Regions from separate parts of the Homo sapiens genome. Here region 2 is linked to region 1. The links come from fine-mapping of genetic effects on gene expression. A gene starts in region 1. The other region holds a variant in brackets. All regions are shown on one strand. Distances are from middle to middle.

Evidence for each region. PIP is the estimated chance that this variant, and not a neighbour inherited with it, causes the effect.
Region 2: its variant is fine-mapped to the expression of LIMK1 in whole blood (INTERVAL, PIP above 0.99).

Annotation. Positions count from the first base shown.
Region 1 is chr7:74,076,185-74,088,475 of GRCh38, reverse strand. It overlaps LIMK1 (LIM domain kinase 1), which reads right to left and starts at 4,672. Exons shown (of 16, transcript NM_002314.4): 1 at 4,431-4,672; 2 at 2,632-2,728. The coding sequence starts at 4,485. RefSeq lists enhancers at 2,150-2,747, 2,748-3,347, 3,859-4,128, 4,615-5,293, 5,189-5,298 and 1 more and silencers at 4,319-4,368, 4,479-4,528, 4,649-4,918.
Region 2 is chr7:74,128,986-74,141,276 of GRCh38, reverse strand. No RefSeq gene overlaps it. Among named protein-coding and RNA genes, the nearest start is that of EIF4H, 39 kb to the left of the region's middle. RefSeq lists enhancers at 1,923-2,452, 7,427-8,214. The variant G/T (reference allele first, on the strand shown) is at 6,822.

The DNA.
Region 1 (12,291 bases):
AATCGGTCTCAACTTTGTTTCTTGTTGGATCCCTCAGCTTATTCTGTTCCTTCCAAGGGAACTGTTCCTGTTCCCTCAGCAGTCCGCACCATCCCACCGCTGTGCAGATGGTTTCCTCTGCCTGTTGAGAGCCCTCTTGCCCCCCGAAGGCCTCTTTCTGAGCACCTGATGCAGAATCCCAGGGCATGCTGTCTGTCTCCTTTCAGCCACACTGAGTGTGTTCATTTCACTCACTGGCTGTGTGACTTTCATCAAGAGAATTAACCTCTCTGTGTCCCAATTTTCTCTCTGGCAAAACAAAGACAGCACTAATATCTAACTATGCAAAGTACTTAGAACAGGGGTTGTCCCTTACTGAATGTTAGAAAACGTTAGACGTTATTCCTAAAAAAGAAAAAACAGGCTGGGCATGGTGGCTTATGCTTGTAATCCCAGCACTTTGGGAGGCTGAGTCAGAAGGATCGCTTGAACCAGTTGGAGCTGGAGGCTACAGTGGGCTATGATCTCACCACTGCACGCCAGCCTGGGTGACACAGCAAGACCCTGTGTAAAAAAAAAGAAAAGAAGAAACAAAAAAACAAACCGAGGCCAGGTGCAGTGGCTCATGCCTGTAATTCCAGCATTTTGGGAGGCTGAGGCGGGCAGATCACTTGAGGTCAGGAGTTCGAGACCAGCCTGGCCAACATGGCAAAACCCTATCTCTACTGAAAATACAAAACTTAGCCGGGCGTGGTGGTGCACACCTGTAATCCCAGCTACTTGGGAGGCTGAAGCAGGAGAATCGCTTGAACCTGGGAGGCGGAGGTTGCAGTGAGGAGGGATCGCGCCACTGCTCCCCAGCCTGGGCGACACAACAAGACTGTCTCAAAAAAACCAAAAACCAAAAAATAAACCAAGGCAGAAGCCTAAAATAAAGTCCTAGTGGTGGATGTCTTGACCCCTGCTGGGCATCCCAGAAGCTTCACCTTCTACCCTTTTATGGAGTTTTCTCCCCTGAACCTTGCTGTTTGGTGACTATGCCTGTAATTCTCTCCCACACCATTTGTTTTTCTTTCTTTCTTTTTTAAAAATTGAGACTGGGTCTCGCTCTATTGCCCAGGCTAGAGTGCAGTGGTGCGATCATAGCTCACTGCAGCCTCCACCTCCCAGGCTCAAGTAACCCTGCCACCTCAGCCTCTTGAGTAGCTGGGACTACAGGCATGCGCCACCACGCCCGGCTAATTTTTTGTATTTTCAGTGGAGACAGGGTGTTGCCATATTGCCCAGGCTTGTCTCGAACTCCTGAACTCAAGTGATCTGCCCACCTCAGCCCCAAAAAGTGATGGGATTATAGGTGTGAGCCACCACGCCCCACCTCCACTCTACTTTTCTACCCAGGAAATCTCACATCCTTTGAGACCCCTGCTCTGGCCCTGCTCTGGCTCAAGGCAGGTAGACCCCTGCTCCTGGCTTCTCAGGATGGTCCTACTGGGTGACCTTCAGGTCCTCATGTACTCTTTATCCTCCGCCACAACCCTGACCCTACTTTCTTCCTACCTGTGGGTGTGTGTCTGGACACTGGGGCTGGTGTGACTGGGTTATGCATGTTCGCAAGCAGCCTGGAAGACACTGAGGGTGGCCTGGTTTCCCTTAAGGCCTGGTTTGTCTTCCCTCCCTGCAAGAGCATGAACACCCAGAAGGCAGGAGGGACATTCCTTCCAACTCTTCCCCCTGTCTGGGTGCCAGCAGGGGGCTGAATTGCAGGCACTGGCTCAATTGGAGGTCTCTCCCATCCTCTCTAAGATTTAGATCTCAGAGATCTAGGATGACAACAGAGGCCAAGGCGTTAGCTCACGCCTGTAAGCCTAGCACTTTCGGAGGCCAAGGCAGGAGGATTGCTTGAGGTCACAAGTTCAAGACCAGCCTGGGTCTCAATAGTGAGACCCTGTCTTTACACAAAATTTAAAAAATTAGCTGAGCATTGTGGTGTATACCTATAATCCCAGCTACTCGGGAGGCTGAAGTAGGAGGATCACTTTAGCCCGGGAGATGGAGGTTGCAATGAGCCGAGATGGCACCACTGCACTCCAGCCTGGGCAACAGAGCAAGACCATTTCGAAAAAAGAAAAATACATAAAAGAAAATAAAATGAGGCCAGGAGCGGTGGTTTATGTCTGTCATCCCAGCACTTTGGGAGGCTGAGGTGGGAAGATCACTTGAGGTCAGAAGTTTCAGACCAGCCTGGCTAACATGGCAAAACCCGTCTCTACTAAAAATACAAAAATTAGCTGGGCGTGGTGGTGCACGCCTGTAATCCCAGCTACTCCAGAGGCTGACACAGGAGAACTGCGTGAGCCCAGGAGGAAGAGGTTGCAATGAGCCAAGATCGCACCACTGTACTCCAGCCTGGGTGACAGAGCGAGACTCCGTCTCAAAAAGAAAAAAAAATAGATAAATAAAATGACAACAGGAAGGCCTGTAGGGATTTTCTAGTCAAAACACCTCATGTCATAAATGGTAAATTAAGGCCACGAAGTCACAATAGGGGACGGCACCAGGAGGCATATCCCGGCCTCCCCCATTCCTTGACCAGCCTGTCCTCTCTGGCAGGCCTTGTTTAGGGCAACACAGGCCCTGGGCACCCCACCCTACCTGAAGCAGTCTGCGTGCCAGTCCGCGTTCAGGGCCTGGAGGTACTGGCCATCATAGATCCTCTGGCCGCAGCTTGCACACACGGGCAACTCGCTTCCTGCAGGGTGGGAAGGGAGTTGGGAAGCATTCTCAGGAAGTGTGATCTGGTGCAGGCCCAGCTTGCCCTGCCCACCCCACATATACCTACACCTGCACCAATCCTCGCACACTGCACATGTGCAGCGCCCAGGCAGGGCAGTCGCTGTGCCAAATAGGAGAAGAAAGGGCGCTGGCCTGAGTCTTGCTGAGATACTGACTAGGTTGCCAAGCTTCTCTGGCCCTGTTTCCCTATGTATCAGCTTAGGAGGAGGATCAGGTCCATCCTCCCGCTATAGCATTGGATCTGGCAAGGTAAATGAGGAGAAAGGAAGCAGTGGCTTTAGGGATAAGGCAGTGGGTGACATTCCTATCACAGCCTCCTTTCTTCCCTCTCCTGCCCAGGAAGAAGTACTAAGAGGGCCCTTCAAAGGCAGGGACTGGACAGGGCTGGATTAGTGCATCCTGGGCTGAAGCCAGCTGGGAGGTCAAGGGCAGGAAGCCTGGAGGTGCCGGCCCTAACAGATCCTTGGCAATGAATGCCCTGGCTTGGCAAGGGGAGGGGGCTGCAGACCTGGGTACTCCCAGACACCTGTCCCAGGGAGGCCTGGCACCTCCTCTAGCCAGCCACAGGCATGCTTAGTCATCCTTGGGGCCTGGCACCCTTGGAGCTGGTGGGCCCTGGAAAATGCCCCAGACCTGCCCCTCTCCACTGTACAGAAGGGGAGACTGAGCCCCAGAGATGGCATGGCTTGCCCAGTCACATAGCTAGGTCCCAAGGCCACAACAGCCTGACCCTCTGTGAAGACGCAGGTACCTTAGGTAGGCAGGGGCTACAGGAAGGTGGGCCCCTACCCCAATCAGGTTTTCATGGGCCTGGGAAGAGTTGGTGGCAGGGGGAGGTGTGGAGTCAGGCCCTGCCTTGGGGCCAGGTGGATCTAAGTGACAGGTCAGCGAAGGAGATCCAAGGAGGGGCCCCCAGACCCTGTCCTAGGCTGGGGGAGTCCTTGAACCCTAACTGCAGTGCAGTACTGCGCCTTGGGCCCCAGTGAGGGAGAAGGGGCTAAAGAGGAGGTTAGGATGAGTCATGCTCCCAGCCAAGACTGAGGGCAGGCACCGGGTTTGGGGCACGGACAGGGAGAGTGGATGAGGCTCCCGCAGTACACGGCCTCCGGCTTCCTGGACGCCTATCTCCGCTCTACCCATCTGGCCCCCAATCACCGACACCGGGGGGGCAACTACCCAGTTTCCAAATGTACAGAAGGGGAAACTGAGGACCAGGAAGTCAGCGCCTGGCTCAAGGTCACAGAGCCGGGCAGGCGCCCGGCGGCCACTGGGACCCGGGGCTGCGGCTTCCCCAGCCGCTCTTTCTTCCGAGACTGGATAAAGGGTGGCCCCAGGGCGAGGCCCGGGTGGTGGACAGAGCACGCGGATGGAGGCCGACGCGGGGTGGGCAGTGTCTGGGAGTCCTTCGCGGGGGGACGTGGGAGGAGGAAAAAGGGTCCAGGGGCCCCCAGACCCGCAGGAGGGCAGCTCGCCGGGGGCCGGGGAGGGGGATCCCGGGCGGGAGGGGGACAGGGAGGGGCCTGCGGGCTTCGTAAGGACGAGCTCATCCCGGAGGAGGCAGGGGCGCGGCCTCCTGGCAGACCCGGCCCCCTCCCGTGCCCCACGCTGCCCCGGGCACCCCCTCCAGGCCCTCGCCCCACACCCCGCGGCCCGCGCACCTTCCTCTCCCATACGTTCTTCCCTCCAGGTGCAACAAAGTAGCGTCAACCTCATGCACTCGACGGGGGGCGGGGCCCGGCGGGGCTGGGGCTGGGGGCGGCCGGGCCCGCGAGCTCGCCCACCGCCGCCGGCCCGGGGAGGCGGGGGCGGAGGGCGCGGGCCGGGCCGGGCCGGGCCGGGGGCGCCTCTCGGACACCGGCGGGGAAACCGGCTCGGCGCCGCGGCGGCTTGGGGAGCGAGCGGAGGGGCGGACCGAGGCGGGGCCTGTGAGCTGCGGCACGGGGGCGGGGCGCGGGCGGCCGGCGGCGGGAACGGCCCTGCGCGGCCCCGCCCCCACCAGAAAACCCCGCCCCCACGCCCAAGGCCACGCCTCTAGAGGCCACGCCCCGCTGCGGCCCGGCCTGGGGGCGCCGCGAGCTGGCGCGGCGCGCCCCGCCCCTCCCCGCCCCTTCCGCCCTTCATTCATTCTTCTTTCTCCCAGCGACAGGCCTCGGCTGGGAGCTGCGAGGCCCAGCTGTCTCGGAGGGCCGCTAGCTCTGCTGGGGCAGGCCAGGAGGATGTAGGAGCCTAGAGAAGGGGCCTCCGCTTCCCTGCGCGAGGCCCCCACAGACCCAAACCAGCTGCAGCCGGGAACTCGGATCAGAGCTGGAGAGGCCCTGTGGACCCCCAGGACACTGGTGGTCGCCTTGGGGAGGGGAGGGAGGCGGGCCGGGTTTTGTCCCTCTCTCTGAGGCCTGCATTGAGGCCAGGCTGGGCCCGGGGAAGGTGACGGTCCGCGTCTCAGGCCTCGCGAATGAGCAGCACCAGAGAAAGGAGCGAGCCCCTGCCAGGCGGTGACAGGTGTACTCTTCTCAGTGCCGATTACCTGGAGCTGGGGCTGCCCTGCCCAGGGTCCTGGAGGGAGCACGGGTTTGGGCTGAGTCAAGCGTCCAAAGGAATTGGGTGGTCCAGTCCAGCACTGATGGTGGAACGCCCTGCCTAGATGTGGACAATTCTAGAATGCTGGACATGGGCAGGAAGCAACCCTGTCCCCCCTAGGTCTACCTTCCACGTCATCCCTCTGCCCAGGAAGCAGTGACCGGAGTGGAGCCACGTGCCCACGTGAACCCAGTGAACAAGAGGCAGCGCTAGCCCAGCTCCAACTCTAGTCATCATGTTTGTGGGGAGAGGTCTAGGCACGTCTGCAAAGTGGGGGGCACTCACCCCTGGGTGCAAAACAATTACGTGGGGTGGGAAGAAAATACTAGATTTTTTTTTTCTTTTTTTAGATTCGGTCTCGCTCTGTTGCCTAGGCTGGAGTGCAGTGGCGGGATCTCGGCTCACCGCAGTCTCCACCTCCCAGGTTCAAGCAATTCTCCCACCTTAGCCTCCCGAGTAGCTGATATTACAGGCGTGCACCACCATGACCGACTAATTTTTGTATTTTTAGTAGAGATGAGGTTTCACCATGTTGACCAGGCTGGTCCTGAACTCCTGACCTCAGGTGATCCACCCTCCTCGGCTTCCCAAAGTGCTGGGATTACAGGTGTGAGCCACCACGCCTGGCCAGAATTTTTAATTTCTCATGAGAAAGAAGGCTGGGCACAGTGGCTCACACCTATAATCCCAGCACTTTGGGAGGCCAAGGTGGGAGCATCACGTGGGGCCAGGAATTGGAGATCAGCTTAAGCAATGAAGTGAAACCCTGTCTCTTCTAACTTTTTTTTTTTTTGAAATGGAGTTTCACTCTTGTTGCCCAGGCTGGAGTGCAATGGTGCGATCTCAGCTCACAGCAACCTCCACCTCCCGGGTTCAAGCCATTCTCCTGCCTCAGCCTCTGGAATAGCTGGGATTATAGGCATGCACCACCATACCTGGCTAATTTTGTATTTTTAATAGAGACGGGGTTTCTCCATGTTGGTCAGGCTGGTCTCGAATTCTGGACCTCAGGTGATCCACCCACCTTGGCCTCCCAAAGTGCTGGGATTACAGGCGTGAGCCACCGCGCCCAGACTTTTTTTTTTTTTTTTAATTAGCCAGGCATGGTGGCTCATGCCTGTAGTTAGTTACTTGGGAGGCTGAGGTGGGAGGATACTTGACCTCAGGAGGTTGAGGCTGCAGTGAGCTATGATTGCACCATTGCACTCTAGCCTGGGTGACAGAGACCCTGTCAAAAAAGATAGGGAGGGAAAAAAAGGGGAAGGAAAGAGAGGGGAATGAGAGCCTTGTAACTTGGCTGTAGGGCATATACCAGGCAGGACCCTGGCTGGAAACAGAAAGTGCCACTTAGTGGGGCTAACTGGGGAGAGTTTGATAAAGGGGATGTTTGCAATGCACTGGGGAGGGGGGATTAAAGGAGATCAGTAAGGACTGGCACAGTTGGAGGGGTGGCAGCAGTTACCAGCCCAGGGTAAGGGGGCATAGAGGGGGTCCCTGGAGGAGAGGCCTGCCTGAGAGGAGCTGTGCAAGAGGGGTCCCCAGTTCTGGGGGACTCATGGGGAAGAGGGCCCAGAAGGGCTATTCTGATCTGACTCCCCTGCTCTTCTTATTCTTCCATTGCCTCCCGTTAACCAATCCCGTCTGGATGCAGCGGGCAGGGCCATGTTGATGCTGTGCCCACAGTGCAGGGCAGAGAAGTGCATAGTGGCCTGGAGGGGCTGTGAGCCTGAGCCAGCTTGGTTGAGTGATGTTATCCAGTTTTGACTAAATTAACCCTCACAGAATGGACTCATAGTTGAAAACAATTCCTGCAAAGAAAGCACAGATTGGGCCTGGCGTGGTGGCTCACACCTGTAATCCCAGCACTTTGAGAGGCTGAGGCGGGTGGATCGTGAGGTCAGGAGATCGAGACCATCCTGGCCAACATGGTGAAACCCCGTCTCTACTAAAAATACAAAAATTAGCTGGGCATGGTGGTACGTGCCTGCAATCCCAGCTACTTGGGAGGCTGAGGCAGGAAAATCGCTTGAACCAGGGAGTTGGAGGTTGCGGTGAGCCGAGATTGCGCCACTGCACCCCAGCCTGGTGACAGAGCAAGACTCCATCTCAAAAAAAAAAAAAGAAAGCACAGATTGAAGATGATGCAGACTGGGTGCAGTGGCTTATACCTGTAATCCCAGCACTTTGGGAGGCTGAACTGGGAGGATCGCTTGAGGTCAGGAGTTCAAGACCAGCCTGGGCAACATAGTGAGACCCCCTCACATCTCTTCGGAAAAAAAAAAATTATCTGGGAGTGGTGGTGTGCACCTGTAGTCACAGCTACTCAGGAGGCTGAGACGGGAGGATCGCTTGAGTCCAGGATTTGGAGGCTCTAGTGAGCTCTGATCATGCCATTGTACAGCCTGTCTCAAACAAATAAACAAAAAAAAAAAAAAAGAAGATGCTAACACACCCAGATGAGCGAAAAGATGGAGCTGGCACTTCCACACCTTGTAGGAGCTCCTTGTCAGCCACAGTTCCAGGTGAAACATCAGATCTGACATATTCAGTTACATTGCTCATGCAAGATTTTTTTTGCTGAAAGCAAAAAGGATTTTTGCTTTTTATTTATATTTATTTATTTATTTATTTATTTTGAGATGGAGGTTTGCTCTTCTTTCCCAGGCTGGAGTGCAGTGGCACGATCCCAGCTCATTGCAATCTCCACCTCCTGGGTTCAAGCAATTCTCCTGCCTCAGCCTCCCAAGTAGCTGGGATTACAGGTGTGCACCACCATGCCTGGCTAATTTTTTGTATTTTTAGTAGAGATGGGGTTTCACCAGGTTGGCCAGACTGGTCTCGAACTCCTGACCTCAGGCGATTCGCCCACCTAGGCCTCCCAAAGTGCTGGGATTATAGATGTGAGCCATCTCGCCTGGCTGCAAAAAGGATTTTTGGACTTTTTTTTTTTTTTTTTTTTAAGAGAGACAGGGTCTCACTCTGTCACACAGGGTGGAATGCAGTGGCACGATCGTAGCTCACTGCAGCCTCAAACTCCTGAGCTCAAGTGATCCTCCCACCTCAGACTTCTAGGTAGGTGGACCCACAGGCACACACGCCACGTCTGGCTAATTTTTATCTTTTGTAGAGATGGGGGGGGGTCTTACCATGTTGCCCAGGCTAGTCTCGAACTCCTGTGCTCAATTGATCCTTTCCACTTTGTGTTCCCAAAGTGCTGGGATTATAGGCATGAGCCACTGAGTCCGGCCTGATAAAAGTTTTTTGTTTTGTTTTTGTTTTTTTGAGATGGAGTCTCGCCCTGTTGCCCAAGCTGGACTGCAGTGGCGCTAACTCGGCTCACTGCAACCTCTGCCTCCTGGATTCAAGTGATTCTCCTGCCTCAGCCTCCCGAGTAGCTGGGATTACAGGTGCCTGCCACCACGCCTGGCTAATTTTTGTATTTTTAGTAGAGATAGGGTTTCACCATGTTGGCCAGGCTGGTCTTGAACTCCTGACCTCAAGTGATCATCCCACCTCGGCCTCTTAAAGTGCTGGGATTACAGTGTGAGTCACCACTCCCGGCCAATAAAAGTTTTTTCTATGAGGAGTTGAGCGCCCCATGGGAATGGCTTACTCACTCTAGAGGTTAGAATTGCCCAGTTGCAAATTTGTGCCTGGCTGGACACAAGCCAGTGACAAGCAGGAGGCTCCTTGGGGATGCTGCTGTAACGTGAGCCCAAGGCTGTTGTTGAAGGCAGGGCCAGAGCCTGAGCTGTCCTAGCATGCAAAGCAGGCTGGCGTCATGGGATCCCTGCTGTCAGACCCTGCCTGCTCACATCTCGCCCACTCTGCGTGAGCTCACTCAGATGCATGGCTTGGTGACTCCTCTGACCTCTCCTCGAACTGCAGACACAAGAACCCGAATGTCTATTTGGGATCTCCACTTGGATGGCAAATGGGACCTCATACTTAATGTGTCCAGGTCAGAGCTCATAATTTGTGCCCGGATAGTTCCTCCCCAGGTGTTTCTTATCTCAGTAAATGACACCACCATCATCCAGTAATTTAGTTTAAACTCACAGACATTTTTTTTTTTTGAGACAAGATCTTCCTCTATCACCCAGGCTGGTGGGCAGTGGCACGATCAAAGCTCACTGCAGCCTTGACCTCCCAGGCTCAAGCGATCCTCCCATCTCAGCCTCCCTAGCTGCTGGAACTACAGGTGTACTATATGGCATGACTGCTCCCATTCCCTCTCTTGACTCCCTGCCTCTGATCCATTGGCAAATCCTATTGGCTCTATATGTAAAATACATCCAGAATTCCAGCACTTCTCCCTCCTTCTTGGCCTAGTTAGGTATTTAGAGCAACAGCCTCCCAAGTCATGTCCCTATGCCCTGTCATCCTGCAGAGCCTCTGAACATGTGTGACATTCCTTTGCTTTCTAACCCTAAGGTCCCTGCTTCTGCGCTTATGGGACCTAGCCTCTGGCTACTACTTTGCCCTTATTTTTATTCTCCTGTCAGTTTTGTTAAAATCATGATGGTCAGTCATGGTAGCTCACACCTGTAATCCCAGCCATTTGAGAGGCCAAGGCAGGAGGATCCCTTGAGGCCAGAAATTTGAAACCAGCCTGGGCAACATAGCGAGACCTCATCTCTAAAAAAAAAAAAAATTAGCCAGGTATGGTGGCACGTGACTGTAGTCCTAGCTACTTGGGAGGCTGAGGCAGGAGGATTGCTTGAGACCAAGTCTTGCTCTGTCGCCCAGGCTGGAGAGCAATGGTGCAATCTCGGCTCACTCCAACTTCTGCCTCCTGGGTTCAAGCAATTCTCCTGCCTCAGCCTCCTGAGTAGCTGGGATTACAGGCGCATGCTATCACACCCGGCTAATTTTTGTATTTTTAGTAGAAACGGGGTTTCACCATATTGGCCAGGTTGGTCTTGAACTCCTGACCTCAGGTGATCCACCCGCCTCGGCCTTCCAAAGTGCTGGGATTACAGGCGTGAGCCACCGCGCCTGGCCCCTTTCTCTAATTAAAAAGAAGAAAAATCGTGGTGCACCTCTCTGCTGTTCTAACTTCCCAAGTACGTGGTTGTTACAGGGCTTTTGACTTGAGGCCAGGTCCATTAACCATCCTAAGTTAGGGTGATAACATTCCTTGTAACTCTCCTCCCGGGCTTTTTATCTTCATAGCACCGATTTACCTGGCATTAGAGTTATTACTTATTCACTGTACTATATCAGTTTCCCCTGGCTGCTATGACAAATTACCAGAAACTTGGTGGCTGAAAACAAGACATTTATTTTCTCACAGTTCTGGAGGCCAGAAGTCTGAAATCAGATTGTTGGAAATCAATCCTGAAATCAATCTGCTGTGTCTTCTTTCAGGCATTTTATAGTTTTGGGTCTTACATTTAGTTATTTAATCTGAGTTATTTTTTGTATATGGTGTAAGATAAGGATCGAACTTTTTTTTTTTTTTTTGAGACAGGGTCTTGCTCTGTTGCCCATGGAGTGCAGTGGCATGATCTCAGCTCACCACAACCTCCGCCTCCCAGGTTCGAGCAATTCTCCTGCCTCAGCCTCCCAAGTAGCTAGGCTTACAGGTGCATGCCACCAGGCCCGGCTAATTTTTGTATTTTTAGTAGAGACGGGGTTTCACCATGTTGGACAGGCTGGTCTCAAACTTGTGATCTCAGGTGATCCACCCGCCTCAGCCTCCCAAAATGCTGGGATTACAGGTGTGATCCACCGTGCCCGGCCCCCAGACTTTATTCTGAGACAGGGTCTCGCTCTGTCACCCAGGCTGGAGGGCAGTGGCATGATCTCAGCTCACTGCAACCTCTGCCTCCCTGGTTCAAGTGATTCTCCTGCCTCAGCCTCCTGAGTAGCTGGGATTACAGGCACCCACCACCATGCCCAGCTAATTTTTGTGTTTTTAGTAGAGATGGGGTTTCACCATATTGGCCAGGCTGGTTTCGAATTCCTGATCTTGTGATTTGCCTGCCTCGGCCTCCCAAAGTGCTGGGATTACAGGCATGAGCCACCGTGCCCGGCCACTTTATTCTTTTGTATGTGGATATCCAGTTTTCCCAATAAAATTTGGCTTTTTTGTTATGTTTTTTGTTTTTTTAAAGAGAGATGGGATCTGTCTATGTTGCTCAGGGCGGTCTCGAACTCCTGGGCTCAAACAATCCTCCCACTTTGGCCTCCCAGAAGTGTGAGGATTACAGGCATGAGCCACTGTGTCTGGCCACTAACATTGCTTGTTGAAGAGACTATTCTTTCCCCACCGAATGGTCTTAGCATCTTGTCAAATATCATTTAATCATATACACGAGGCTTTATTAATATTTCTGAGCCATTATAAATATTCTGTTCTGTTGGTCTGTTTGTCTGTCATTATGCCAGTATCACACTGTTTGGGTTACTGTAACTTTGTAATACGTTTTGGCATCACAAAGTGTGAGTCCTCCAACTTTGTTCTTCTTTCTCAAAATTGTTTTGGCTATTTGGAGTCCCTTGAGATTTCACATGAGGTTTAAGATGAAATTTTCTGTTTCTGCAAAAAATACCATTGGGACTTTGATGGCAATTGTGTTGAAACCGTAGATTGTTTTGAGTACTACAGGCCTCTTAACAATTAAGTCTTACCATCCATGAACATGGATGTAAATTTTTATATTTACCTGTGTCTTCTTTAATTTAATTCAGCAGTGTTTTACAGTTTTCAGTGTACAAATCTTTCACTTCCTTGGTTAGGTTTATTTCTAGTATTTTATTCTTTTTGATGCTATTATAAATGGAATTGTTTCCTTTTTTTCTTTTGAGTCTTGCTCTGTCCCCCAGGCTGGAGTGCAGTGGCACGATCTTGGCTCACTGCAAGCTCCGCCTCCCGGGTTCACGCCATTCTCCTGCCTCAGCCTCACGAGTAGCTGGGACTACAGGTGCCCGCCACCA
Region 2 (12,291 bases), 53 kb before region 1:
CGGATCATTTGAGATTGGGAGTTCAAGACCAGACTAGCCAACATGGTGAAACCCTGTCTCCACTAAAAAATACAAAAACTAGCTGGGCGTGGTGACATACGCCTGTAATCCCAGCTACTTGGGAGGCTGAGGCAGGAGAATCGCTTGAGCTGGGGAGGTAGAGGTTGCAGTGAGCCAAGATTGCACCACTGCACTCCAGCCTGGATGACAAAGTGAGACTCCATCTCACAAAAAAAAAAAAAAAAAAGAAAGTAAAGGAACAAAGAATGTCTACTCCATAGGCAGAGCATCCCCTAAGGTTGCTGGCTGGATATTTTTTATAGTTATCTCTTGATTACATGCCCAACAAGGGTGGATTATTCATGAATTTTCTGGGAAAGGCACGGGCAATTCCTGGAACTGAGGGTTCCTCCCCACTTTTTTTTGAGACAGAGTCTTGCTCTGCCACCCAGGCTGGAGTGCAATGGTGCAATCTCAGCTCACTGCTACCTCTGCCTCCTGGGTCCAAGCAATTCTCCTGCCTCAGCCTCTGGAGTAGCTGGGATTACAGGCGCCCGCCACCATGCCCAGCTAATTTTTGTATTTTTAGTAGAGACAGGGTTTCACATCTTGGCCAGGCTGGTCTTGAACTCTTGACCTTGCAATCCACCTGCCTTGGCCTCCCAAAGTGCTGGGATTACAGGCATGAGCCACTGCGCCCGGCCGGTTCCTCCCCTTTTTAGACAATATAGGGTAACTTCCTGATGTTGCCACGGCATTTCTAAACTGTCATGGCACTGATGGGAGTGTCTTTAGCATGCTAATATATTATAATTAGCACATAATGAGCAGTGAGGACGACCAGAGGTCACTTTCTTTCTATTTTTTGAGATGGAGTTTCACTCTTGTCATCCAGGCTAGAATGCAATGGCACGATCTTGGCTCACTGCAACCTCCGCCTCCCGGGTTCAAGCAATTCTCCTGCCTCAGCCTCCTGAGTAGCTGGGATTACAAGCATGTGCCACCACGCCCAGCTAATTTTTTGTATTTTTAGTAGAGACGGAGTTTCTCCATGTTGGTCAGGCTGGTCTCAAACTCCTGGCCTCAGGTGATCCGCCCGCCTGGGCCTCCCAAAGTGCTGGGATTATAGGCGTTGAGCCACCGCACCCAGCCTACCAGAGGTCACTTTCATCGCCACCTTGGTTTTGGTGGGTTTTGGCCGGCTTCTTTGCTGCAACCTGTTTTATCAGCAAGGTTTTTTGTCACCTATGTCTTGTGCCACCCTCCTGTGTCATCCTGTGACTGGGAATGCCTCACCTCCTGGGAAAGTAGCTCAGTGGTGATGCAGGGTTTTTCTAGGCACCTTCGCTGGACTCATGGAAGGGATGCCCCATCTACTCAGCCCCCTGTGCTCAACCCCTTGCAGGAGGGAGCACACAAGTGACTAAGTGTGGGATCTGGCCAGCTGGCTTCTCCAGGCACCAACACAGGAGCAAGCTGTATGCAGGGCCCATGGCCAGAGCAGGCATGTCACCTTGAGGGGAAAGCAGCAGCACCTAGGTGAGGGTGCCCGTGTCCCCGAAGCTGCAGAGGGGGTGTTATTACAGTGCTCCTTTAGTTCTGCTGTCCACAGATGGTGACATGTCAGCAGATCAGCTGGCCCCTTGCCTCATCACATGGGGACAGCTGCCCTTCACAGGCGAGGGCAAAGGCCCAGTGTGACAGCCTTTCTGGGTATCCTCACTCACTGGGTCCCAAGCTCTTGTCCAGCATCCAGGAAGAATGAAGTTACACGGACGATTGAAGGATGATGAAGGTGGAGAATTTTATTGAGCAATGAAAGCGACTCTCAGTGGAGAGGGGAGCTGGAGAGGGGATGGGAAGTGCAGGCTGCCTTCCCCGAAGTCAGGTCGTCTTTTCCCCTGCTGACTGAGTCTGGAGCCTTTATAGGCACAGGGTGGGGAGTGTGTGCTGATTGGCTTGTGAGTATGCAAAAAGGAGTAGTCCCAGCTATTCAGGAGGCTGAGGCTTGCTTGAGGGATCCCTTAAGTCCAGGAGTTGGAGGAATGTCTTTTGTTATTTATAATGAGTCCTTTTGATCACACTGGAGTTTATGCTAATGAGGTGAGTTAAAGCAAAGACACTACTCAAAGGTGGTCATGAAAGAGTAGAAAACCGCCGGGCACGGTGGCTCATGCCTGTAATGCCAGCACTTTGGGAGGCCAAGGCGGGCAGATCACAAGGTCAGGAGATTGAGGCCATCCTGGCTAACACGGTGAAACCTCATCTCTACTAAAAAATACAAAAAATTAGCCGGGCGTGGTAGCAGGCGCCTGTAGTCCCAGCTACTGGGGAGGCTGAGGCAGGAGAATGACATGAACCCGGGGGGTGGAGATTGCAGTGAGCCGAGATTGCACCACTGCACTCCAGCCTGGGTGACAGAGCGAGACTCTGTCAAAAAAAAAAAGAAAGAGTAGAAAACCAATTAGGAAAGGGTGGGTATATGTAAAATAGGCGAAGGGTGGGGATCAATCAGAGGAAAGCGCGACAAACAGGAAGGTAAGCTCTCAATCCGGTCTAAGGTTTAAACTTGTACCTTCAGTTTCAGGCTTTAAACCGTCTTCGGGTTGGAGGTGGGGTTTCACCGCGGACCCGCCCCTATTGGCCTAGGCAATTGGCTGCCTCCTGTCAATATCAGCAGGTCTCAGCCTCATTTTACCCACCCCCTATTCAAGATGGAATCACTGTGGTTCAAACTCCTCTGACAACAGTAGCTTGCTCCAGATCACACAGCTAATACAAATTGACTCACAAACTCTGGTCTACCCATCATTCAAAGAGGCAGGAAGGTATAGGCCAAACACAGGAAAAGCAGCAGTAACGATAAACTGTGTCTAAAAGACCGTCTTTTCCCCCACAGCACAGGATGAAGTTGAAGTTACTTTCTCTGCCTAAGATCCAGACATCCCCCCTCAACAAGGAAAACAATTGTTTTTTTTTCTTCTCCTTTCTATAAAATCAAGAATGGAACCACACCTGAACAGACTCTTCCGCAAGATAATGTCTCCCTCAGGCTCATTGAAATTCCAAAGAGAATTATGTACAAGTTAATCTCTGTTCCTAAATCCATTCATTCTCCCCAGCAATGTTTATTTTTATTTTTATTTTTATTTTTATTGAGATGGAGTCTCACTCTGTCACCCAGGCTGGAGTGCAGTGATGCCATCTCAGCTCACTGCAACTTCCTCCTCCTGGGTTCAAGTGATTCTCCTGCCTCAGCCTCCTGAGTAGCTGGGATTTCAGCTATGTGCCACCATGACTGGCTAATTTTTGTGTTTTGAGTAGAGACAGGGTTTCGCCATGTTGGCCAGGCTGGTCTCGAACTCCTGACCTCAAGTGATCTGCCCACCTTGGCCTCCCAAAGTGCTAGGATTACAGGCATGAGCCACTCTGCCTAGCCCCCAGTAATCTTTTATGTCCCCTCAATAGAATTCCTCTTTCTTCCCCCTGCCATAACCTGTTTTACCAGGATCCAAACCCCTATTCTTTCTGTATCTGCAAGATAGTATATCTATATCTATAGATATCGATATCTATAGATATATATACACATGTCTATATATATAGATATGTATACATATAGATATAGATATATAGATATCTATAGATATAGATATGTATACATATCTATATATATGTATATAGTGCCAGGCACAGTGGCTCATGGCGGTAATCCCAGCGCCACTTTGGGAGGCCAAGAGGGGAAGATCACTTGAGTGCAGGAGTTCAAGACCAGCCTGGCAACATGGCGAAAACCCAGTCTCTACTTAAAAAAAAAAAGAAGATGGTATATAAGCGTCTGAACGCCTTTGGGGTGGTGGGTAATCACGCTGTGGTGTGGTTCTCCCCAGATACGTGTGAATGCAATTTGTATCCCCCTTTTTCTAATTAATCTGCCTTTTGTGAGCTGATTTATCAGCAAACCTTCAGAAGGTGAAGCAGAAGTTTTTTCCTTGGTTCCTACAATCTCACTTCTATGCACATAACAAAATTTCACATGCACCCTATAAATATGGACAGCTACGATGTATTAATAATATTAGGCTGGGCATGTTTGCTCACACCTGTAATCCCAGCACTTTGGGAAGCTGAGGCAGGAGGATGGATCACTTGAGCCCAGGAGTTCAAGACGAGCCTGGGCAACATAATGAGACCCTCATCTCTACAAAACATAAAAACATTAGCTGGGCATGGTGGTGCACTCCTGTAGTCCTAGCTACTCAGGAGGCTGAGGTGGGAGGATTTATTGAGGCCAAGAGTTTGAGACCAGCTTGGGTAATATTATGGGACTCCTCTCTATAGAAAATAAAATTAAAGGCTGGGTGTGGTGGCTCACACCTGTAATTCCAGCACTTTGGGAGGCCAAGGCGGGTGGATCACCTGAGGTCAGGAGCTGAAGACCAGCCTGACCAACATGGTGAAACCCTGTCTCTACTAAAATACAAAATTAACCAGGCGTGGTGGCAGGTGCCTGTAGTCCCAGCTACTCGGGAGGCTGAGGCAGGAGAATCGCTTGAACCCAGGAGGCAGAGATTGCAGTGAGCTGAGACCACGCCATTGCACTCCAGCCTGGGCGACAAGAGTGAAACTTCGTCTCAAAAAAAAAAAAAAAGGAAAATTAAAAACTTAGCTGCATGTGGTGGTGTGCACCTGTAGTTCGAGCTACTACAGAGGGTGAGGCTGAGGTGAGAGAATCACTTGAGCCCAGGAATTCAAGACCAGCCTGGGCAAGATAGCAAGATTCCATCCCTATTTTAAAAATTAAGTAAAAAAGGCCAGGTGTGGTGGCTCATGCCTGTAATCCCAGCACTTTGGGAGGCCCAGGTGGGCGGATCATGGAATTGGGAGATTGAGACCATCCTGGCTAACACAGTGAAACTCCGTCTCTACTGAAAATACAAAAAATTAGCCGGGCGTGGTGGCACGCGCCTGCAGTCCCAGCCACTCGGGAGGGTGAGGCAGGAGAATGGCATGAACCTTGGAGGCGGAGGTTGCAGTGAGCCGAGATTGTATCACTGTACTCCAGCCTGGGGGACGGAGCGAGACTCCGTCTCAAAAAAAAAAAAAAAAAAAAATTTAAGTAAAAAAATTTGAATATAATAAACTAGTTGCAGCGGGTGCAGTGGCTCATGCCTGTAATCAGTCCCAGCACTTTGAGAGGCTGAGGCGAGTGATCACAAGGTCAAGAGATCGAGACCATCCTGGCCAACACGGTGAAACCCTGTCTCTACTAAAAATACAAAAATTAGCTGGACGTGGTGGCCTGCGCCTGTAGTCCCAGCTACTCAGGAGGCTGAGGCAGGAGAATCGCTTGATCCCAGGAAGTGGAGGTTGCAGTGAGCTGGGATTGCGCCACTGTACTCCAGCCTGGCGACAGAGTGAGTCTCAAAAAATAAAAAATAAAAAAAAAATTACTTAACATAAGTAAAGTATTTCCCTGAGCTCTGTGAGCCATTCTAGAAAATTATCTAACTCCAGGAGAGGGTTTTTGGAAACCCCAGCTTTTAAAAAAATTATTTCTTGGGGCCGGGTGCAGTGGCTCACGCCTGTAATCCCAGCACTTTGGGAGGCCAAGGTGGGCGGATCACGAGGTCAGGAGATGGAAACTATCATGGTTAACACGGTGAAACCTTGTCTCCACTAAAAATACAAAAAATTAGCCGGGCGTGGTGGCGGGCGCCTGTAGTCCCAGCTGCTCGGGAGGCTGAGGCAGGAGAATAGTGTGAACCCGGGAGGCGGAGCTTGCAGTGAGCCAAGATCGCGCCATTGCACTCCAGCCTGGGCGACAGAGCGGGACTCCATCTCAAAATATAATAAAATAAATAAATAAAAATTATTTCTTTATATTTATTTATTTATTTTTGTTTCAACAGGTTTTTGGGGAACAGGTGAACAGGTGGTATTTGGTTACATAAATAAGTTCTTTTTTTTATTTTGTATTTTTTTTTTAGACAGAGTCTCGCTCTGTCACCCAGGCTCGAGTGCAGTGGCTTGATCTCAGCTCATTGCAAGCTCTGCCTCCCAGGTTCAAGTGACTGTCCTGCCTCAGCCTCCTGAGTAGCTGGGATTACAGGCATGTGTTACCATTCCTGGCTAATTTTTGTATTTTTTTAGTAGAGGCAGGTTTTCGTCATGTTGGCCAAGTTTTTTTTGTTTTTGTTTTTTTTTTAATAGAAATATGGTCTCACTATGTTGCGCTGGTTGGTCTTGAATTTCTGGGCTCAAGCAGTCCTGCCACTTAGGCCTCCCAAAGTGCTGGGATTACACATGTGAACCATCACACCCGACCTGAAAGCAAGCTTATCAGGAAAATAAAGGAATAGCCGGGCGCAGTGGCTCACGTCTGTAATTCCAGCACTTTGGGAGGCTGAGGCAGGTGGATCACCTGAGGTCAGGAGTTCGAGACCAGCCTGGCCAACCTGGTGAAACTCCATCTCTATTAAAAATACAAAAATTAGCTGGGTGTGGTGGTGCATACCTGTAATTCCAGCTACTCGGAAGGCTGAGGCAGGAGAATTGCTTGAACCTGGGAGGCAGAGGTTGCAGTGAGTCAAGATTGTGCCACTGCACTCCAGCCTGGGCAACAGAGCGGGACTCTGTCTCGAAAAAGAAAAAAAAAAAAAGAATAGGAAAGGAATAAAGAGTGACTCCTCCATAGGCAGAGCAGTGGCATGGGCTGCTTGACTGAGTATACTTACAGTTATTTCTTCATTCTATGCTAAACGAAGTATGGGTTATTCATGAGTTTTCCAGGAAAGGGCAGGGATTTCCCAGAACTGAGG[G/T]TTCTTCCTTCTTTTAGACCATATAGGGTAACTTCCGGGTGTTGCCGTGGCACTTGTAAACTGTCATAGTCCTGGTGGGAGTGTCTTTTAGCATGGTAATGTATTATAATTAGTGTATAATGAGCAGTGAGGATGACCAGAGGTCAGTTTCATCACTGTTGGTGGGTTTTGGGGCTGGCTTCTTTACTGCGTCCTGTTTTTGTTTTCTTTTTTTTTTTTTTTTTTGGGATGGAGTCTCGCTCTGTTGCCCCGTCTGGAGTGCAGTGGTGCGATCCTGGCTCACTGCAACTTCTGCCTCCCGAGTTCAAGCAATTCTCTTGCCTCAGCCTCCTGAGTAGCTGGGAGTACAGGTGCCTGCCACCATGTCTGGGTAATTTTTGTATTTTTGGTAGAGACAGGGTTTCACCATGTTGGCCAGGCTGGTCTTGATCTCCTGGCATCAAGTGATTTGCCCGCCTCAGCCTCCCAGAATGCTGGGATTACAGGAGTGAGCCACTGTGCCCTGTCAGCATCCTGTTTTATCAGCAGGGTCTTTGTGACCCGTATCTTGTGATACCAGTCCTGCCAACCTTCTGTCTCATCCTGTGAATAAGAATGTCTCACCTACTGGGAATGCAGCCCAGCAGGTCTCAGCCTCATCTTACCCAGCCCCTATTCAAGATAGAGTCACTCTTTTTCAAATGCTTCCTTCCAAAAACAAAGGATAACAGGCTGGGCGCAGTGGCTCATGTCTGTAATCCCAGCAGTTTGGGAGGCTGAGGTGGGCAGATCACTTGAGGTCAAGAGTTTGAAACCAGCCTGGCCAACATGGTGAAACCCCGTCTCTACTAAAAATACAAAAATTAGCTAGGGGTGGTGGCACATGCCGATAATCCCAGCTACTCGGGAGGCTGAAGCAGGAGAATCACTTGAGCCCAGGAGGCGGAGGTTGCAGCGAGCCGAGATGCCATCACTCTACTGCAGCCTGTCCAGCAGAGTGAGACTCTGTCTCAAACACACACACACACACACACACACACACACACACACACACACACACACACCACAAAGGATAACAGGAGACAGGAAAATTAGAGGACCATCTGAATCTTAATGTTTTCAAGGTGATTGCAAAAAAAAAGGGGAGAGACAAAGAAGATATGAAGTATTCTGTAAAATGTAAAAAAAAAAAGTCTAAGACCTCAGTAGAGAAAATTATGAAATATTTGTTCACAAAACTTATGCATTTTTTTTTTTGAGACGTAGTTTCGCTCTTGTTGCCCAGGCTGGAATGCAATGGCACAATCTCATCTCTCTGCAACTTTCGCCTCCCGGGTTCATTGATTCTCCTGCCTCAGCCTCCTGAGTAGCTGGGATTACAGGCATGCACTACCACACCCGTCTAATTTTGTATTTTTAGTAGAGATGGGGTTTCACCATGTTGGCCAGGCTGGTCTCGAACTTCTGACCTCAGGTGATCCACCAGCCTCGGCCTCTCAAAGTGCTGGGATTACAGGTGTGAGCCACTGTGCCTGGCCTTCCCGTCTCTCTTTTTTAGTATATCTGCTGCCAAAGGGAGCACCCGTCTCTCTTTTTAAAAAAAAAGAAGGAAGGGGCCGGGCGCGGTGGCTCACGCTCACGCCTGTAATCCCAGCACTTTGGGAGGCCGAGGTGGGCGGATCATGAGGTCAGGAGATCGAGACCATCCTGGCTAACACGGTGAAACCCTGTCTCTACTGAAAATACAAAAAATTAGCTGGGCGTGGTGGCGGGCGCCTGTAGTCCCAGCTACTCAGGAGGCTGAGGCCGGATAATCGATTTAACTTGGGAGGTGGAGCTTGTAGTGAGCTGAGGTCCCGCCACTGCACTCCAGCCTGGGCGACAGAGCAAGACTCCGTCTCAAAAAAAAAAAAAAAAAAAAAAAAAAGGAAGGGAGGGCGGGAAGGAGGAAGGGAGGAAGGGAGGGAGGAAGGGAGGGAGGAAGGCAGGCAGAAGATCTGAAGAAACATGAGTGGCCACTAAACACGTAAAGATGCTCAACTATAGAGGAAATCAGGGAAACTCAAATTAGTACCACAGTAAGATACTGTATTGTACCTGTTAGTCTGTAAAAAATTAAAAAGATCTGGACAACGAAGAATCTGATATACTGCAAGTGAGACCATAAATCACTAGAACTGCTTTGAGAAACAATTTGGCACTTTTCTTCCTTTCTTTTCTTTTCTTTTTTTTTTTTTTTTTTTTTTTTTTCATGAGACAGGGTCTGGCTCTGTCACCCAGGCTGCAGCACAGTGGTGCAATCATAGCTTACTAGCTTACTGTAGCCTTGAACTCCTGGGCTCAAGCAATCCTCCTGCCTCAGCTTCCCAAAGTACTGGGATTACAGATGTAAGTCACCTTACCTGGCCTTTTTCTTTTTTCTTTGTTTTTGAGCTGGAGTCTTGCTCTGTTGCCCAGGCTGGAGTGCAGTGGAGCAATCTTGGTTCACTGCAACCTCCGACTCCTGGGTTCAAGTGATCCTCCTGCCTCAGGCTCCTGAGTAGCTGGAATTACAGTGATCCGTCCCAAAGTGCTGGGATTACGGGCATGAACCTCCGCACCTGGCCTTTTTTTTTTTTTAAATTTATAGAGGAAAAGGCTGGTCGAGGTGGTGTGGTGGCTCACTCCTGTAATCCCAGTACTTTGGGAGGCCGAAGCAGGCAGATCACTTGAGGCCAGGAGTTTGAGACCAGCCTGGCCAACATGGTGAAACCCCGTCTCTACAAAAAATACAAAAATTAGCCAGGTGGTGGCTGGTGCCTGTAATCCTAGCTACTCGGGAGGCTGAGGCAGGAGAATCGCTTGAACTCAGGAGGTGGAGGTTGCAGTGAGCTAAGATTGTACCACTGCACTCCAGACTGGGTGACAGAGTGAAACTCTGTCTCAAAAAAATAAAAAATAGTATAATTTAAATCCCCAAATAGGATAATTGACTTTTTTTTTTCTGTGCCACCACGCCTGTCTAATTTTTGTATTTTTAGTACAGACGGGGGTTTCACTATGTTGGCCAGGCTGGTCTCGAACTTCTGACCTCAGGTGATCCACCTGCCTTGGCCTCCTAAAGTGCTGGGATTACAGGCGTGAAGCACCAAGCCCAGCTGAGTTTGGAGCTTTAAACAAAAGAGATCCACCAGCATAAGCCCTAGTCGAATGATCTATTGATCATTAAGTGTTGCCCTGTTTATGGAAGATTTACCAATACTTGAAAAACGACTTTAATTTGGTATTGGAGCTTCTTTTTTTTTTTTTTTTCCTGAGACAGAGTCTCGCTCTGTCGCCTGGGCTGGAGTGCAGTAGCGCGATCTTGGCTTACTGCAACCTCCGCCTCCCAGGTTCAAGTGACTCTCCTGCCTCAGCCTCCCGAGTACCTGGGATTACAGGCGCACGCCTCTATGCTGAGCTAATTTTTATTGTATTTTTAGTAGAGACGGGGTTTCACCATGTTGGCCAGGCTGGTCTCGAACTCCTGACCTTGTGATTCGCCTGCCTCGGCCTCCCAAAGTGCTGGGATTACAGGCGTGAGCCACCGTGCCCGGCCTGGAACTTCTTAAAGTAGAGTTTTGAAGTTTTTTGTGAGCAGTTTTGGACCAATCCCAGAAGGAAACGTAGCATATTTTATATGCACATGATTTCTCTACTGTGTTAACTCTGCAGCTTTTAAAACATTTTTATTTTTAGAGACAGGGTCTTGCCATGTTGTCCATGCTGGTCTCAAACTCCTGAGCTCAGCAATTTGCTGGTCTCAGCCCCACAAAGTGCTGGGATTACAGTCATGAGCCAGTGTGCCCGGCCAAGAAATTATATAATTTTTTAAAAGCCATATTAATTTGTGTAAAACAACTGACTCTGTTATAAACTGTCATGAAAAGCCTTCATAATTGATTTAGTATTTAGGTGGTGCTTTTGCAGTGGAAATTATGATTAAAGTCATATATGACTCCAACAAAAACATAGTTTTATTGTATTACAAAGTACTGTATTGATTTGCCAAAATTTTATAATTTGGAAAAGGTATTACCTTCTTTAGATCCGTATTTCTAAAACACTGTATGATTTACAATGCTATATTCTAGGCTGATTATATTAACTGAAAAATATTACCTAAATATTGCTGCACTCTAAATTTAAACAGAGGAACCATTGTTCACCTCTTTTATAGCGTTTTTTATTTGCTAACCTCATAAAATTTCTATGTGTCAAAATCACACTTCTATAATTGCCAAAGCATGAGCTATTAGATTATTTGAATGTAATTGGGTTTTGAAGTAATTGTGACCACAAAACATTCTTATAAAAGGAGCTTTGTACATTATGTAACTTATAAATCAACTACAGCATGAATTCCAGGTGCTTAATGCTTTTAATAATATGATGTCACAGCCAGGGGAAAAACTCTATGTACACTAATCACTAAAAGCACTGCAGTGGTTTTTATTTATAGGAAATCATTATTTCCGATTACTGAAGGTCAGGTGCTATCTTAAAAACAATGTAGTAAATGAATTTTGTTTCACATTTCAGGGCAAGTAATTGTCAGCCATTAAATGGTACTTTTGAAGCCGGGCGCAGTGGCTCACACGCCTGTAATTGCGGCACTTGGGAGGCTGAGGTGGGTTGATCACCTGAGGTCAGGGGTTCGAGACCAGCCTGGCCAACATGATGAAACCGCGTCTCTACTAAAAATATAAAAATTAGCTGGGCGTGGTGTGCACATCTCAATTCCAGCTACTCAGGAGGCTGAGGCATGAGAATCGCTTGAACCCAGGAGGTGGTTGTTGCAGTGAGCCAAGATTGTGCCACTGCACTCCAGCCTGGGAAACAGAGCAAGATCCTTTCTCAAAAAAAAAATTACCCAGTTTCAGGTATTTCTTCTTCTTCCTCCTTCCTCCTTCCTTCCCCTTCTCCTTCTCCCCCTCCTCCTCCTCCTTCTTCCTTTTTTTTTTTTTTTTTTTTGAGACAGAGCCTTGCTCTTTCACCCAGGCTGGAGTGCAGTGGTGCAATCTAGGCTCACTGCCACCTCTGCCTACCAGGTTCAAGTGATCCTCTTGCCTCGGCCTCCCAAGTAGCTGGAACTACAGGCACACACCACCACACCTGGCTAATTTTTGTATTTTTAGCAGAGGCGGGGTTTCGCCATGTTGGCCAGGCTGGTCTTGAACTCCTGACCTCAATTGATCCACCTGCCTCGAGCTCCCAAAGTGCTGGGATTACAGGTGTGAGCCACCATGCCTGGCCTGAGAGACTTAATATTATTACGATGTCAATATTCCAATACTCCCCAGTTCACATATAGACATAAACCAATCCCTGTCAAAATCCTCAGCTGGACCGGGAACAGTGACTCATGCCTGTAATTCCAGTGCTGTGGGAGGCTGAGGCAGGAGGATCACTTGAGGCCAGGAGTTCGAGACCAGCCTGGCCAACATGGTGAAACCCCATCTCTACTAAAAAT